Regions from separate parts of the Homo sapiens genome. Here region 1 is linked to region 2. Evidence: fine-mapped expression QTL. A gene starts in region 2. The other region holds a variant in brackets. All regions are shown on one strand. Distances are from middle to middle.

Evidence for each region. PIP is the estimated chance that this variant, and not a neighbour inherited with it, causes the effect.
Region 1: its variant is fine-mapped to the expression of GLYATL1-AS1 in whole blood (INTERVAL, PIP above 0.99).

Annotation. Positions count from the first base shown.
Region 1 is chr11:59,008,171-59,016,512 of GRCh38, reverse strand. The region is part of intron 3 of GLYATL1-AS1 (GLYATL1 antisense RNA 1); the gene reads left to right. Among named protein-coding and RNA genes, the nearest start is that of GLYATL1-AS1, 46 kb to the left of the region's middle. The variant T/A (reference allele first, on the strand shown) is at 4,657.
Region 2 is chr11:59,054,413-59,062,754 of GRCh38, reverse strand. GLYATL1-AS1 (GLYATL1 antisense RNA 1) reads left to right here and starts at 4,303. Exons shown (of 6, transcript NR_033853.2): 1 at 4,303-4,383. RefSeq lists enhancers at 3,969-4,228, 4,399-4,468.

The DNA.
Region 1 (8,342 bases), 46 kb after region 2:
GGTTATTCTAGTTATACATTCGTCTAAATTTTTTTCAAAGTTTTTAACTTCTTTGCCTTTGGTTTGAATTTCCTCCTGTATCTCGGAGTAGTTTGATCATCTGAAGCCTTCTTCTCTCAACTTGTCAAAGTCATTCTCCATCCAGCTTTGTTCTGTTGCTGTGAGGAACTGTGTTCCTTTGGAGGAGGAGAGGTGCTCCGCTTTTTCGAGTTTCCAGTTTTTCTGCTCTTTTTTCCTCATCTTTGTGGTTTTATCTACTTTTGGTCTTTGATGATGGTGATGTACAGATGGGTTTTTGGTGTGGATGTCCTTTCTGTTTGTTAGTTTTCCTTCTAACAGACAGGACCCTCAGCTGCAGGTCTGTTGGAGTTTGCTAGAGGTCCACTCCAGACCCTGTTTGCCTGGGTATCAGCAGCGGTGGCTGCAGAACAGTGGATTTTCGTGAACCGTGAATGCTGCTGTCTGATCGTTCCTCTGGAAGTTTTGTCTCAGAGGAGTACCCAGCCGTGTGAGATGTCAGTCTGCCCCTACTGGGGGGTGCCTTCCAGTTAGGCTGCTCGGGGGTCAGGGGTCAGGGACCCACTTGAGGAGGCAGTCTGCCTATTCTCAGATCTCCAGCTGCATGCTGGGAGAACCACTGCTCTCTTCAAATCTGTCAGACAGGGACATTTAAGTCTGCAGAGGTTACTGCTGTCTTTTTGTTTGTCTGTGCCCTGCCCCCAGAGGTGGAGCCTACAGAGGCAGGCAAGCCTCCTTGAGCTGTGGTGGGCTCCACCCAGTTCGAGATTCACAGCTGCTTTGTTTACCTAAGCGAGCCTGGGCAATGGTGGGTGCCCCTCCCCCAGCCTTGCTGCCGCCTTGCAGTTTGATCTCAGACTGCTGTGCTAGCAATCAGTGAGTCTCCATGGGTGTAGGACCCTCTGAGCCACGTGCGGGATATAATCTCCTGGTGCACCGTTTTTTAAGCCTGTTGGAAAAGTGCCGTATTAGGGTGGGAGTCACCCAATTTTCCAGGTGCCATCTGTCACCCCTTTCTTTGACTGGGAAAGGGAACTCCCTGACCCCTTGCTCTTCCTGAGTGAGGCAATGCCTCGCCCTGCTTCGGCTCGTGCATGGTGCGCTGCATCCACTGTCCTGCACCCACTGTCTGGCACTCCCCAGTGAGATGAACACTGTACCTCAGATGGAAATGCAGAAATCACCTGTCTTCTGCATCGCTCACACTGGAAGCTGTAGACCAGAGCTGTTCCTATTTGGCCATCTTGGCTGCCAGACCTGTGAAATCAATTTTTCTTACAAAAGTATAGTGACTCCTACTCTTCTTAGTTTCTATTGTCACAAAATAACTTTCTCCTTCCCTTTATTTTCAGTCTATGTGGATCTGTATAGGTGAAGTGTGTTTCTTATAGGCAATAGAGCAATGGGTCTTGTTTTTAAATCCATTCAGCCACTCTATGTCTTTTGATTGGAGAGTTTAGTCCATTTACCTTCAATGTTATTATTAATAAGTAAGGACTTAGTCCTGCCATTTTGGTATTTGTTTGCTGGTTGTGAACTCCTCTACCTTGTTTTTCTCCTTCCGGCCTTCCTTTAGCGAAAGTGATTTTCTCTGGTGATAAAATTTTGTTTCTTTCTTTTAATTTTTTGTGTGTCCATTGTATGTTTTTGGGTTTGAGGTTACCATGACGTTTGCAAATACCATCTTATAACCCATTATTTAAATCTGATAACAAAACTATTTGCATAAACAAACAAGCACAAAGTATACTGATAAAAACCCAATGCTTTAATTTTGTCTTCCCACTTTTTAACTTTTTGTTATTTCTATTTATATCTTACTGTACTGTTTCTTGAAAAGTTGTTGTAGTTATTATTTTTGATTGGTTCATCATTTGGTGTTACTACTTAGGGTAAAAGTAGTTTATACACCAGAGCTACAGTGTTATAATATTCTGTCTTTTTCTGCGTACTGATTATTATCAGTGTGTTTTTAAACATCTGATGATTATTTATTGCTCACTAATGTTCTTTTCTTACTGAATGTTCTGTTCTTTCTAATGTTCTTCTCTTTATATACAATTTCTTGTGAGACAGGTCTAATATTAATGAAATCCCTCAGCTCTTGTCAGGGAAAGTATTCTTCCTTCATGTTTGAAGAATATTTTTGCCAGATATAATATTCTACTGTAAAAGGTTTTTCTCCTTCAGTACTTTAAATATGTCATGCCACTGTCTGCGAGGTTTTCACTGAAAGAATCTGCTGTCAGATGTATTGGATCTTCATTGTATGTTATTTATTTCTTTTCTCTTGCTGCTTTTACATTTCTTTCTCCTTGACCTTTGGTAGTTTGATTTTAAATGCCTTGAGATACTCTTTGGGTTAAATCTGCTTGGTGTTCTACAACTTTCCTGTACTCAGATACTGACATCATTCTCTGGTATGGGGAAGTTCTCTCTTACTATTCCTTTAAATAAATTTTCTACCCCTGTCTCTTTCCCTACCTTCTCTTTAAGGCCAACAATTCTTAGATTTGCCCTTTCAAGGCTATTTTCTATATTCGGTAGATGCGCTTTGTTGTTTTTATTATTTTTCTTTTGTATCTTTTGACAGTGTCTTTTTAAATAGCCTGTCTTCAGGCTGACTAATTCTTTTTTCTGCTTGGTCAATTCTGCTATTAAAGGACTCTGATGCATTCTTCATTATGACAATTGCATTTTTCAGCTGCAGAATTTCTGATTCTTTTTAACTATTTCAATCTCTTTGTTAAATTTATCTGATATAATTCTGAATTCCTTCTCTGTGTTATCTCTGTGTTATCAAAGTTTCTTTAAGTTTCCTCATTGCAGCTATTTTGAACTCTCTTTCTGAAAGGTCACATATCCCCATTTCTTCAGGATTGGTCCCTGGTGACTTATTTAGTTCATTCGCTGAGGTCATGTTTTTCTCAATGGTGTTGATGCTAGTAGATGTTCTTCGGTGTCTGAGCACTGAAGAGTTAGGTGTTTGTTGTAGTCTTCACTGTCTGGGCTTATTTGTAGCCATCCTTTTTGGGAACGCTCTGCAGATATTTGAAAGGACATAGGTATCGTGATTTAAACTCTCTACTTTAGGGAGCATCCCAAGCCCAGTAATACTGTGGTTTTTGAAGACTCATAAAAGTACTGCCTCAATGGCCTTGGACATGATTCAGGAGAATTCTCTGGATTGCCAGGCAGAGACTGCTCTGTTTTCTTCCCTTAATTTCTTGAAAAAAAAAAAAAAATTTCTCTCTCTTGTCTGTGCCACCTAAAACTGGGGGTGGAGTGACATAAGCACTTCTGTGGCCACCACCATTATGACTGCACTACATCAGGCCTGAGGCCCACAGAGCACTGCATCTTGCCCAATGCCTGCTGTAATCACTTCTTGGCTACTGCCTATGTTTGCTCAAGGCCCTGGAGATCTGCAATCAGCAGGCAGCAAAGCCGGCCAGGCCTGTGTCCTTCCCATCAGGGCAGTGAGATCCCCCAGGCCCTGGGTGGATACAGAGGTGCTGTCCAGAAGTCAGGGACTAGAGTCAAAAACATTAGACGAGTACCTGGTGTTCTATTATATTGCAGTCGAGCTGACGTTCAAACCACAAGATGAAGTCCTTCCCACTTTTCTCTTCTCTTTCCAAAGGCAGAGGAGCCACACCCCATAGTGACCCCTACCCACTGGTTGCTAGACTACCAACCAGTGTTCTCTTAAAGCCAAAGGGCTCTTAAATCAGCTTGTAGTAAAGGCTGCCTTGCCTGGGACTCACCCTTCAGGGCAGTGGGCTCCCTTGTGGCCCATGGTAGGTCCAGAAATGCTGTTCAAGAGCTAAGTCCTGCAATTGGGTATGCCAAGAGCCCACTTGCTGCTCTACCATGCTGTGGCTGTGCTGGCACCTAAGGTGCAAAACAAAGTCTCTTTACTCTCCTTCCATTTTTCTGAAGAAGAAAGAATCTTGCCTCATAGCTGCCTCAGCTGAAATGTGCTGAGTCTCACCTGAAACCTGCTAGTCTCAGATGCTCATCCAAAGCCCTCAGTGTATTAATAGTACCTGGGTATTGCTTAGGTTATTCAGGGCTCAAGGTATCTTCAATTAACAGGTGGTGAATGCTCTGAGGAATGAATTCTTTCCTTCAATGCAGAGGTTTCCCTTCTGGCCCAGCCTATGTCTAGAAATGTTGTCTAGGAGCAGTGGCCTGGAACGGGGGCCTCACAACTCTGTTTGGTGCCTTATCCTCTTGTGGCTCAGCTGATATGCAAAGACAAAGTCTTCCTTACTGTTTCTTTCCATTCCTCCAGCAGAAGGAAGGAGTCTCTTTGGGAGCTGCGAGATATGCAACCTGGAGTTGGGGGAGGGGTGATAACAGCACTCCTTTGGCTGACCCAGCTGGTGTCTCAGTATGTCAAATATCCCCCTAGTCCACAATTTCTGGGACTTATTCAGCACTGGACTCACCTAAGAGTTGCAGTCCTTATGGCTTAGACTGCCTTTCAAGTTTACTTGGAAACACAGAGAACTGTAGGCCCCCTGTGGTGAGGTTTTCAGGCACTGAAGTTCTTACTGCTGGGATTGCTGATTCCTCTCAGGTTAGGACTGGCTTAAATGCTCCCTCTGCCTCCAGGGGCAGGTGTCAGCTGAG[T/A]TTGATCTAGTTTTCCTTTGTGTCTAACATAACAACAATGAGTTCAGTGCCTCATAATTGCTGTGTTCTTCCTTCCCCCCCGTGCCCAGAGATAGACTGTGCACCACATGACTGCTACTGAGGTTGGGAGGGAGGGGGGTTGGTGATTCAGGACTGTTTTTTTCCATCTCTTCAGTGCCTCTTTTAGGGATATGAAGTCCAAACCGGGTACTATGAGTGCTCACTTGATTTTTGGTTCTCATGAAGGTATTTTTTCTGTGTAGTTGTTAACTTGGGGCCTTGTGGGGTATGGGGAAATGATTAGTGGAGCCTTCTATTCTGCCATTTGCTTTGCTTCTCCTCCCCATTATAAACTATTTAAAAAATATTTAATAGCTTAAGAAATTACTTAAGTAATACTCAGTATAGAAATAAAATATGTGGTCTCTCAGCTATCCACAGTGTGCTGTCAATTATGGAATAAAAAATACGTATTGAGTAGTTTAAATGGACCATTTTTTTAAAAGGATGATTAGTTTACTGTAAACTCTATAAACTTTCATATAGATTTAACAAATTAATCATTTACAATTATAAATATGTAAAAATTCTTTGATTATGTGAACAACTTTTGGTTCAAAAAGTAGAGTAACTAAAAGTATAAAATTCAATGCCTTACACAGCAAGCATGTGCAGATAGTAGAAAATCCTAATTGATAATTTTTAATATGTCGTCTGGAGTAGATGATTTAGGTTTGTAAGAAGTTATAAACTGCCTAAGGGTAGGGAATCACTGTCTATGGAATCATGGTGTCATTAAAAGAATTCGATATTCGGCCTCATATTCCAGACATTGCCAATGGTTAGTTTTGTGACTTGAGGGAAGACATTTACTTTTTTGTCAGCAACAGCTTCCTTATTTGTGTAAAAATAACTCTTGTTTTTCTCATGTCATAAATGATTACAATTTGAAGTTGCTTTCACTTCCAGAAAGTGGGTAAAGACTTTTTTTTCTTTTTAATTAGAGAGAGTATCTCACCCTGTTGCCCAGGCTGAAGTGCAGTGGTGAAATACCTCACTGCGATCTCAAATTTCTGGGCTCAAGCAATCTTTTCATCTCAGTCTCCTGAGTAGTTGGTACTATAGACACATGCCCCTATATGTGGCTAATTAAAAACCAAAAATTTAAAGATGAGTTTTATTAGGTTGCCCAGGCTCATATCAAATTTCTGCCCTCAAGCAATCCTTCTGCCTCAGACTCCCAAGTAGCTGGTATTACCGGTGTAAGCCACTGCACCCAGGATAAAAATTTTATAACATATTTTCCCATTTTTTAATCTCAATGTTTTCAAAATATAATATAGATCAGACTCTTTTAGATAGCTTTTTATAAGATACAGATTGCCAGGCACTTTGGGAGCCTCTGATTTACCTGATCTGGAAAAGTTCTTGTATTGTTAACAAGCAAGCCCAATTGATCTTGAAGTAGATGGTGTGAGGAACACACATTGAAAACAATGTTTGTCTCTATTCCTCTACAAAGCTAATTCCAGTCCCCCTGAAACTTTTCTCCACTAATTGCTTTTTCTTCTTATACTTACAATACCCTTCCCTCTTGCTCCACTTTAGACAACCAGAGGACAAGGTATATGAAACCCAGTTCTCATTATTACAGTAACTTTCTTGAGGCATTCTTGTCTTTTTCCAACCCACAAATGGTTGAAAGTATTAGGCCAGGTATTTTGCCTTGAAACCAAACTTTCCAACTCTTTGTTTGCTCTGCTAACTTGTTTTAAATAAGGCTGCAGCTGTGCTATTTTTGCCAACTCTAGAAAATTGACTTAATATTGTTCTAGAATACTCTTTCAGCTATAACAAGTTATGTATAAATCAAAAGCTTCTTGTGTAAAACTTCTTATAATTGTAGAGGCTGCTCAATACAGAACATGGTCTCAGTCCTCCTCTGGTCCACAAAGCCTCTGACTTCCTGTCTACGGACAGAACATCTGGTTTAATCTACAGGAACCCATAACTTCCTGAAGCTTTATGCTAAACAGTGACAGCGTGAGTCAATTGAATTTTAGTGTGTCTGAGTCCATAGAGTGTTAGCTACAGAAACCTTTCCATTGCCATTCTGAGCAAGTGCAGCAGGCAGTGTGCCTACAGCTCTGCAAAGAAACTTCAGGTAAGCAGAATTGTTTAGAACAGCCTTTTTTTCTTGGCATTTCAATTAATTAGGATTCTTGTTCTCAATCATTTGTATTTGTTAATTTATTTCTTTTCCCCTGAAAACCCTTGGAATGAGCACTCACCAGGGTCTCAATGTTGAGAACAAATTCTTCAAAACCTTTTAGGTACCTGAAGCTGGAAAATACTTTAGAAAAAGCCAGTGTGTAGCCTTTTGAATTTGTAAAATGTCCAAATGCTTTCCTTGAATTATAAATTATCAATATGCTTAAACATTTCTCTAACAACCTCTAGATCTCCAGGGTAATATAGTTACCAAAAAGAAAAAAAATCAGTATTCTCCTTGCCTCCAATCCTGCTTCTAGAGTATTACTTATTTGCATAGAAAAATCTTCCTTCTTCCTTCTGTGTCATGTGGCTGGAATAAAACAATGCTTTTCTGTTGCCCTCTGCCAAATTTCTCTGCATTCGTTGAAATATTTGGCACCTGACATCCTAATTTTTCTCTTCAGCCAACTTCTGCTACATCCTGTTCATGTCTGTGATACCTGAAGCTCCCATTCCCTTCTTGGCTCCTACTCTATTGACTTGGAGTTGATGCCAACAGTCATACATGCCAAACTGATCTACTTCTGAATACCTCTGAAATCTCAACCTCTAATAGCCTAATATCTGACTCCAGTCTCCTATTTGTAAGTACATTTTCCCCTGTCTATTAACATTGCTATTCTTTGACTTCATCAAGTACTTTCGTCCCTTGCTTTTTCTATATTTTCTCACTTTATTGGTCTCCAACCTACTTTACTTTTTTCTTCTCTATCTTAGATGTGAGTTTCAATCCCTCATTACTATGTTCTCAAATGCTTTGTCCCTTATCTTTTTTGTTATCCAGCCCTGAAAAAGCCAATCTTGGTTTGTTTTAATTTGTCTTCTGTGCTTCTACTTTTAGGGTGCTGAGCTTAATATACTGTTGAGTAACACTTCCAGTGATGGTGTCCCTCTTTACATGATCCTAAGCATGCTTGCCAGTCCTTGCTAATTCTAGTCCACTGTTTCTCCCATTAACATCAAAAGCCATTTATACCCTAACCATTTCCCCTAACATCCTACTTCTTTTTCTGAACACTTTCTTGGCATACTCCCTCACCCACTCACTTCTAAAAAGTGATTTTGGGAATAGGAAGAAATTTTACCTCTTCCAGGAAATAGACATTCAAAAATAACTTGCCAACTCTATGCTCCTTTTTTCTAACCCTGTGTACTCCTGTATACAATTAGTCCTTACTTAACATTGTCAATAGGTTCTTGGAAACTGCAACATCAAATGAAACAACACATATCAAAATTATTTTTACCATAAGCTAATTAATATAAAGAAGAGTTAAGTTCCTACAGCATATTTCTGGTGACAAAAACATCACCAAACTTATAAAGAACTGAAGCACTTCTAATATAAAACAATGCAATAAATGTAAGCTGTATATACATTTAAGAAATATTGATACAAACAAGTAAGATAA
Region 2 (8,342 bases):
CGTCTGCGTGAAGTCTCCAGGGATTTGGCCTGATCCGCAAATGAGCTAACTTCGCGGAGGGGCTGGCGAACACAGACAATGCCAGCCTGGACGAGGAAGCGGCCAAAACTGCTTAGGCTTGGTTCCCAGGACGCGCATTACTGAGTGCGGTACTTTACTCTTCGGATGAAGACTCCAGAGTTCGGCCTCCCCAAACTGATATCAAAGAAGTGCTTTCCATGGGACTTGAGAAAACGTCTTACTGTTTAAGGAAAGAACGTCTTACTGTCTGAGACCCTGAATAGAAGGAGATGCCTTTAGTATTGGGTGTTATTTTTCAGAAGTTGGTCAAAGAAGGATACAAGATGGTTGATTAAGTGGGGATGGTGACAATTATTTTGCAACTCATAGAAGGACAGATGTTTATGTAACAGTTGATAGTTTTGGTGGAATAATCATGAGCATGTTTCTGAAATTAATATAAAATATACAGAGACCCCTAAAATCACTGCTTAAATTACATAGGTCTTGTGGTGTTTGGAAAGAGCAAACTTTGGAAGTATAATTGTAAAAATAATGTCATACAGTCAAGGAGAAGAGAAAACTTAAGGACAGCTTTCTCAAATCGCTGTTATTCTTGAATCATCTGAAAGCAGTACACGTGCCTGGCACCAATATACATCAGAGAGTAAATCATTGCACAAGGAGACTTGATCTTCTTTTTTTGTAGAATCTGGAGGAAAAATATCTATGAAAACCAAGAGGTAGTAGAGAATGGTGTTGTCGGAATTGCCTGACATCATTGGAGATAGAAAATTTGCCCTGGTAAAAGGTGCTCCTCAGGGAGGAGCATCTGCACATTCCATTAGCATAAAGCCCCTGGTGGGCCATATGAAGAAGTCTGGATTTGGCTATAAATGTGAAATTTATTTTAAATGGAGGATTTGAAGTAAGGGAGAAATATACCCTGACATATTTTTTAAAACCACCCTAGCAGCGTTTGTGCGCGGTACAAACTCTGGGAGGACAAGAAGAGATGTGGAAGGGAGAAGGCAGCTAAGAGTCTATCCCAGGATTGCAAAGATGTTGGAGCCCGACCTCAGATGGTAATGGTGGAAGTGTTAGAAATGGCTGGATTCCACATTTATTTTGAAGGGCCAGCCCATGGAATTTGCTTATGGATGGTCCATAAATAAGAGAAACAGAGGGCTCAATGATGATTCCTGGGCTTTTGACTTGAGCAACTAGAAGGATGGGGAAGTCTGAGGACAGAGATGCTGTGTGTGCCAGGATTGCGGTGCTTATGTGTGTTTGTGTAATTCTACTTGTGACATGTTGAATTGGTGATGCTAATCCACTCCAACTGAAAAATAAGGAGGGAAGTGGACATTCAACACATGATGACAGGAAGACAGGGAAGCTGGGACTTATGATGGTAACAATGTTGGCCATTAGCTGAGAAGTTTTGTATTTCAATGTTGGCCATTAGCTGAGAAGTTTTGTATTTTTTTTTTTTTTTTTGGACACAGAGTCTTGCTCTATTGCTCAGGCTTTAGTGCAGTGGCATGATGTCGATTCACTGCAACCTCCACCTCCTGTGTTCAAACCATTCTCATACCTCAGCCTCCTGAGCAGCTGGGATGACAGGTGCTTGCCACCATGCCCAACTGAGTTTTGTTTTTCTAATAGAGATGGGGTTTCACCATGTTGGCCAAGCTGGGTCGAACTCCTGGCCTCAGTTGCTTTGCCTGCCTCAGCGTCTCAAAGTACTGCGATTAGAGATGTAAGCCACCACGTCAGGCCTAAGAATTATAATTAAAGTACAGGGAAAATTAAAAGGGAGAAGAAAGTTCACAGAGAGATATCATGGCAAATGATAAATAAAAAAGCCTGCCTTGTTTCCCATACCCCCTGTGTCTTCGATTCCCTGAATTTTACCTCCCAGTGGACCGTGCTTGTTCCTTCGTAATGGCGCTCCAAGCAGCACTGCTGCACACCAATTCCTGAGCTTCCCTGCTTCTTGAGCTTAGGAATAGTTGTGCTTCTACTTCCTGTTTATTTGCTCATCACTGGCGTAGCAACTGAACCACACAATTGGGATAAGTAACCTGATGCCGTTTTGGGGAGCAATCTTCCATTTCTTCCTTACGTATAAAACTGACCCTCACAGAGAAACTAACTGTCTAGAGCGATAGGTCCAGAGTAGAGCTCTAGCTTTGCTTTTCCCTTTGCAGCTTTGCCCTGAGAGGTTTGATGCAATCCCACTGCAATGGGAATCCGTGAAAGAGTAGGGATGCTCAGGGAATCTGTTGGGCCACTAGGAAAAACTCATTTCTAGCTAATGCTTATACGGGGCTATGGAAGTTGTCTAACATCCCTGGGGACAGAGTGTTTGCCCTGAAAAGGAACATTCCCTTGGCACAAAGCATCTTGTTGGCTGGATTTTATAATAAACGTGACAAGAATGCTTTTGGCCAGTAACTGGTGGTTAGGTCATATTGTGGTTTGCAAACCCATAAAGAGGAAAAGGCCTCTCATGTGGTTGGGAGAGGTGGGAATGGATCATGCACTAAGGTCAGGTCTGGTGAAGTTAGGGAATAAGGCCAGTGTTTACGAAGAGTGATTCCTTCATGAACCCATAAAAGATGCTCTTGAACCCTAATAGTAGGATGATGTCTGTATTTAGAGTTGCAGACAACATGTTCTGGGAATACAGAGGAAGGCACCACTGCCTCTACCCTGAGAGTATATCACAGAGAAAGATTAATATTTGGACTAGATGGCTGAGAGATGAGTAGGAGTTTGATAGAAGAGAACAGGGGAAGTGTCTGGATGTACAATGGCAGAAGTGGCAGGAAAGGCTGAGGAGAACTGGCCTCTGGGGGTGGGTTATAGATATGGGCCTGGGCACCACATTCTGGAGCTTGCAATGGGTTATGTAAAAGCTTAGATGGGACGGTCTTTTCCTCTCCTCCTGTGGGTTCGTAGTGGGCCCACCTCACTCACTGCTGCAAACAAGCTGCCCCCATTTGAGAGAGAGCTGGAGTGGGGTCTCTAAGCCTCCAGCAACCACTTAGGAGCCATCCTTGATGCCCTGGCAGCTAACTCTTCACATGGAGACCCCGTAGTCCATCCTATCTTGGGAAGACAATGCACACAGGGGGAAGGTAACATCCCCCTCCAGATTCCAGAGGCTCCAAGGAGCCTCTCTCTCTCTTCAAGAAAAGAAATAGTCACTGAGCCACGGGTGGAGGTGAACATGGTTTGGGACCAACAGGCGGCTGGATGGTTTCACCTCCACGGTCATACAATGGTACTGGGAGATGAATGGGGGTAGGGCGATCTAGAATCATTTCAACCTCAACTTACAATGGGGTGGTGCTTGGTAGTTGACTCATTGTGGCCCCATTTAATATTTGCAGTCACCAGTTGGGGTAGGTGTGACTGTTGCTCCCATTTCACAGATTAGGACAGGATAGTTTGCTAGAGGTCACAGGACTAGTTGGGGAAAGGAAAGGGTGTCAGGTAGGATTTTAACCTTAGAGCCTCACGCTTTCTTAGGCTCTTTCAGGGAGACCTTGGGCAAATTCCTTTCTCTCTTGGTGGGGGGGTCTCCATTTCTTATTTGTAAATTAAGGAGTTCTTCCAGTTTGTGATTCTCTGTACTTTAACTTGGATAGGTTTTTTAAAATGGGGATTATGGGAACCCCACTATATTTAAGTAGAGTAGGTCTGGGGTGAGGCCCAGTAATCTGCAGCTTTGAACAAACCCCGGCATCAACAAAACTGGTTGAGATACTCAGGAAAGTTTATGGTGCATGAAAATCTTATTGCGAGCATCCAAAACACATAACACTGAGCTCCATCTGCAGAGATCCTGTTTTGATACCCTTGGTTGGACTGTGGCTGGGTAATTTGCATTTGTCAGAAGTGAGGCCAGTCAGCTGGTCAACCAGTCCTCCTGTCACTCTGTGACCCTCCCCCGGTGTCCGCGGTGCTTCTTTACTTGCATCTTGTGGGAATGACATCTGCGCAGGCAGCCCCTTTTAGCACCGCCCCTGGCACAGGAGCTGAGCTCTTAAAAACCAAGCCCAGCCCTGAGTTTGCAGATACTCAGGGAAGGGGAAGGTGCCTTTCCGCATTTGGTGTAGTCCCGCATTCTGCCATATGATGGCGCCAGAGAACGCGCCTACCGGGATAGGGAGGGGCAAGGAGGCGAGGAAGGAAAAAAAAGAGACAAGTGAAGATTGACATCCATTAAGGCCAATGGTAGCTCAATCTTCTGTTCTCTGACTCCCAAGCTTCCCATTCTCTTAGGAGGCTGCATTTGTGGCGCTAAAAAAAGGGATGGGCGTGGGAGATTCCAGGACTTGTGCTCGCTGAAGATACAACTGTTAGTCCAAGGTAACTCCCGCTCGTAGTGGCTCAACCCTCTTTGTCAATTCACCTTCCTCTAAGTTAACTATGGCTGCTCCACCTGTCTTTAGGGAAACCTACTCCCCATCGCGCTGGGTGTTTTGGAGTTTTTAAAAGCGTCGCGGGGTAAAGTCAGTGTTGTGCTTTTCCTTTTCTCAGCAGGTAAGTATTCCTGGAGCTGACAGCGGGGAGTTGCCGGGCGGGAGTAGGGGTGAAGAGAGAATAGGGAGAGAGATAACAGGTGTGAAGCGTCCCTCAATGCCAGGCATCCTGCTTTGGCACCTTCCAGAAATTTGTCTCAATCATCTTTCTATTGAATTCATTTTCTGTTTCACAGATTAGGAAACCTCAACTAAGTGGCCCAAGGAGAGTCCTTGGATAATTTTAACTTGTGTCAGAAACCAAAGCCCAAGGTCTTTTATTTTGCAGAGGCTGCTTTGGCAGGATTTCAATGCATGCAGGTCCTGCGAATCACTGCTCCTCACTCAATGATCCATCCCGCTGTCCACACATTCATTCACCCATTCATTTCTTAGGGGCTTATCTGCAAGGCGTGGGGCTGGATGATACTAAAAATACAAAAGGGACTCTGATGTAAAGTAGAAGAGACTTTTTAAAAAGATTTACACAGAATTCCGGTGCTCAGCATGGTTTCGATTTTTTTCCCCAACATACTATTGATACCTATTATGTTCCACATAATATGATGGATTCTGAAGATACAGAGATGGGTGAGACCTATCCTTGCCTTTCAGAAGCTCGTTGTCATAGGCAAGAGTAATCTCTGAGGTTTAATTTTAGATATCTATTTTTTAACAAATTGAGCATCAACTCTATATATTCTACTGTAATTAATGTACTAAATAATTAAATATTACACACACTTAATTTCTTATTTTTTAGATGAAGATGAATCTAAGTGGTGGTTCAAGTATGTCCTTTGTCCATCCTAGTGGACCATTTTGGGTGCTTCAGACTGCAACTCTACCCTCCTGTTATGTGCTTGGCTCTATTCCTTCTTTCTGCAGCTCTCTGTCAAATGACAGGCTTTGAGGGAAACCAGTCCTGACCCCTTCCTGTTTTCTCTCCTTTTTACCTGCTCCTATCTGAGGCCTCTTTTCCTATTTATTTGTTGTTCTTTCTCCCTCCATCATCTTCTGTCGTCAAATCATGTGTTGTTTTCATATACTACATCTGAGTTTATAGGGAATATGTTCACAGTTGTTTTAATTTTTGGTTTAGCTTCTGCCTCCCTGCTCCAGAATGTAAGCTTCAAGAAGGGCGGCGAGGAGTTCTTGACACCTGTCACTGCCTGAGAAACGGTTGGGGATGGAGGGAGACAGTTTTGCCCAGTGCATCCTGAAATCCCCTGAGGTGGGGGTGGGAGTGGAGGGAAGATCAGGGAATGTCCATTCATTTTATGAAGTTGAAGTTGGGTTAAATCCTATTATATCCTGTGATGTTGTTTGTTAATCTCAACCTGAAGACCTCATCGCTAGTCATCCACTTTTTGCTAGCTTTGTGACCTTGAATGAAAGTTCAAGGCTACCTTGTTTCTTTGTACCTCAGTTTCCTTATGTATAAAGTGGAAAATTATATTTGGTCATCCTAAAATGTGATGTCATAGGGAATCAGTCACTTGAGGGTAAAAGACAAACATTTGTCAATGTATAAGGCTGCAGAAATTATATTCTTGTGAGGGTCAAAGAAAGATATTTGTGGATTTGAGAGTCTTCAGATATTATATCGGTAGCATATGTACATGCAGGAAATACTGAAGAAGCAATTTAATCAAATAGGAAAAGAGATTTCAGATAGGAGCAGAAAATAAGGAGAGGAAACAGTGGTGAGTAAAAAAAAATTGACAAATTTTATGTAGAGAGTTAACTCTAAATGGACAATGATAGGCTCTCTGGGAATGTGTAAGAAAAGTTTTAAAGAAGGATTCTTTAAATTGATGAGACACACTGCAAGGGAAATTCTGTGACACCTGGAACTAAAACACGTGGAACTAAAACATCGGGCTCAGGGGGTTGAACGGTAGAGGAATAAAAGCATTTTGTATCACTTAGCACACTCATCTGGATCTGAGGAGGGAGCAAAACAGGGAAATAAATCTATTGGAAGATGTCAACTTATTGAGGTAAAGGAGGAAACGGTGAATAGCTGTTACTTTATTTTATATAATAGTAAACAAATTTGTGTTCAATTATGAGCACTAGAAACAAATACCAGTGATTGAATAAAAAGTTAATAAGGGAATATGATGTATAAGTGAGTTAATAAGAGAACTTGATGGATAAGTGAATTAATAAGAGTCCACAGTGGAGGCAATTTCCCCTTTTGAAAAACATTATCTTTTGAATATACGCAGGATATACTTTTCAAAAGAAAAAAAGGTGTATATTGGGGAAACAATTTTCACTCATTCTCGAGACACTCAATACTTTTCCCTAGATAATCTATGGCTATACAAGCATAATAATGCCTTTTCAATATATTTTCCCAGCAACTAAGAAGTTCAGTGTTTATAATTGTAATAAGAAGCGTGCTGATCTGGCCTGAAATATAGTTTTACTTTAGATATATGTCTCATAAATAGAATTTAAGAAGTCAGGGAATATGCTTAGAAAGGGATTACCAAGGCCCTATAACACATGAGTTTGGGGGCACAGGGTGATTAAGATTTAGAATAAAGTTAGGTGAAATCTAGGGCCAAAGGATAGCAGGAGGGTGTGTGTGTGTGTATGTGTGTGTGTATGTTGGGTGGGGCAGGTGGGAACCTTTGGAGAATGCCTGTAGGCTGCTAGTGAGGTGCTATGATCTCTAGACCTTGGTAGGTCCTTGCAAAGAGACAGGGTTCTGAAAGGCTGGCACCATTATAGGTTTTTAAAATATTTTTGTTATCCATAGGGGTGACCCTGGAGATCATTACCAAAATTTAAAAATTTCACCACTGGGCACACATGTTACCCTTCTCGTGATGGCATGGCAAAGCTTGATTTGCAAGAGTTTCTTTTGGATTGTCCCCAATGATTCCCTTTAAAAATAGGAGCTCCTTCAAGGTAAGAAAGGAAGGAGAAAATATCCCTTCTAACCTATTTTCTCTTTTGCATTCCAAGGACTCTGGAAAGGCACAGCAGGTTTGTTTTTGAAATCTGTAGAATTTTAGTGCTCTCCATTCTCCCAAGTAGATGACTTTAGTGAAGGTAAAAGGAAAGACTGTTTGCTGTGTCAAGGGAAGATTCATATGCAAATCCCAAGACTCAGATGTTATTTCAGAAGCTTTGGTGTCCATAGTAAAGTAGAACTAGCCCGGGTTCATCTGCCTACAAGGGCAATTGTATGAGGCAAATATGAGGAAACTGGCAGAACAGGAGGGGTGGAATCTTCCTGGGAGAAACAGTAAAGAGAGTTCTAGGTGGAGAGGGGATCAATGTGTTGAGCAAACACATGGCTGTCTTCTTAGTTCCTATATGAAATCATGGAAAAGACTTTTGAACAAAGAATAAATATGTCATAGCAGGAAAACAAAAAGCAGTCTTTTGGCCAGAAATAGAAACTGTTAAAAAGAAAAGCAAACCAACAACAATAAAAAACACCTTTAAGTTTGAAAATGACAGAAGTTAAGAAGTGGAAAGTTGCCTGGGATATGCTTTTATTGCGGCCTCTCTAATAAACCCGTCCCCACTCCATCTTCATGTCCTTGCTTATCCTAAGCAGCATGGTGGCAGCTGTGGCATTCTTCAGACTAAAGTGGTCATTTTTGGCACTTGGGCTTGAGATGGCAGTGAAGCGGCATCGTTTGTCTGGGGAAATGCCAGAGGTTTGCTGTCTCACAGTATGGAAATTGAGATGTGGACACCAAAGGAGTGGGTTCAAGAGCAAAAGTTTAATAGGCAAAAGAATGAAGAGAGAGTTTCCTCATGCATTGGAAAGGTGCCTGA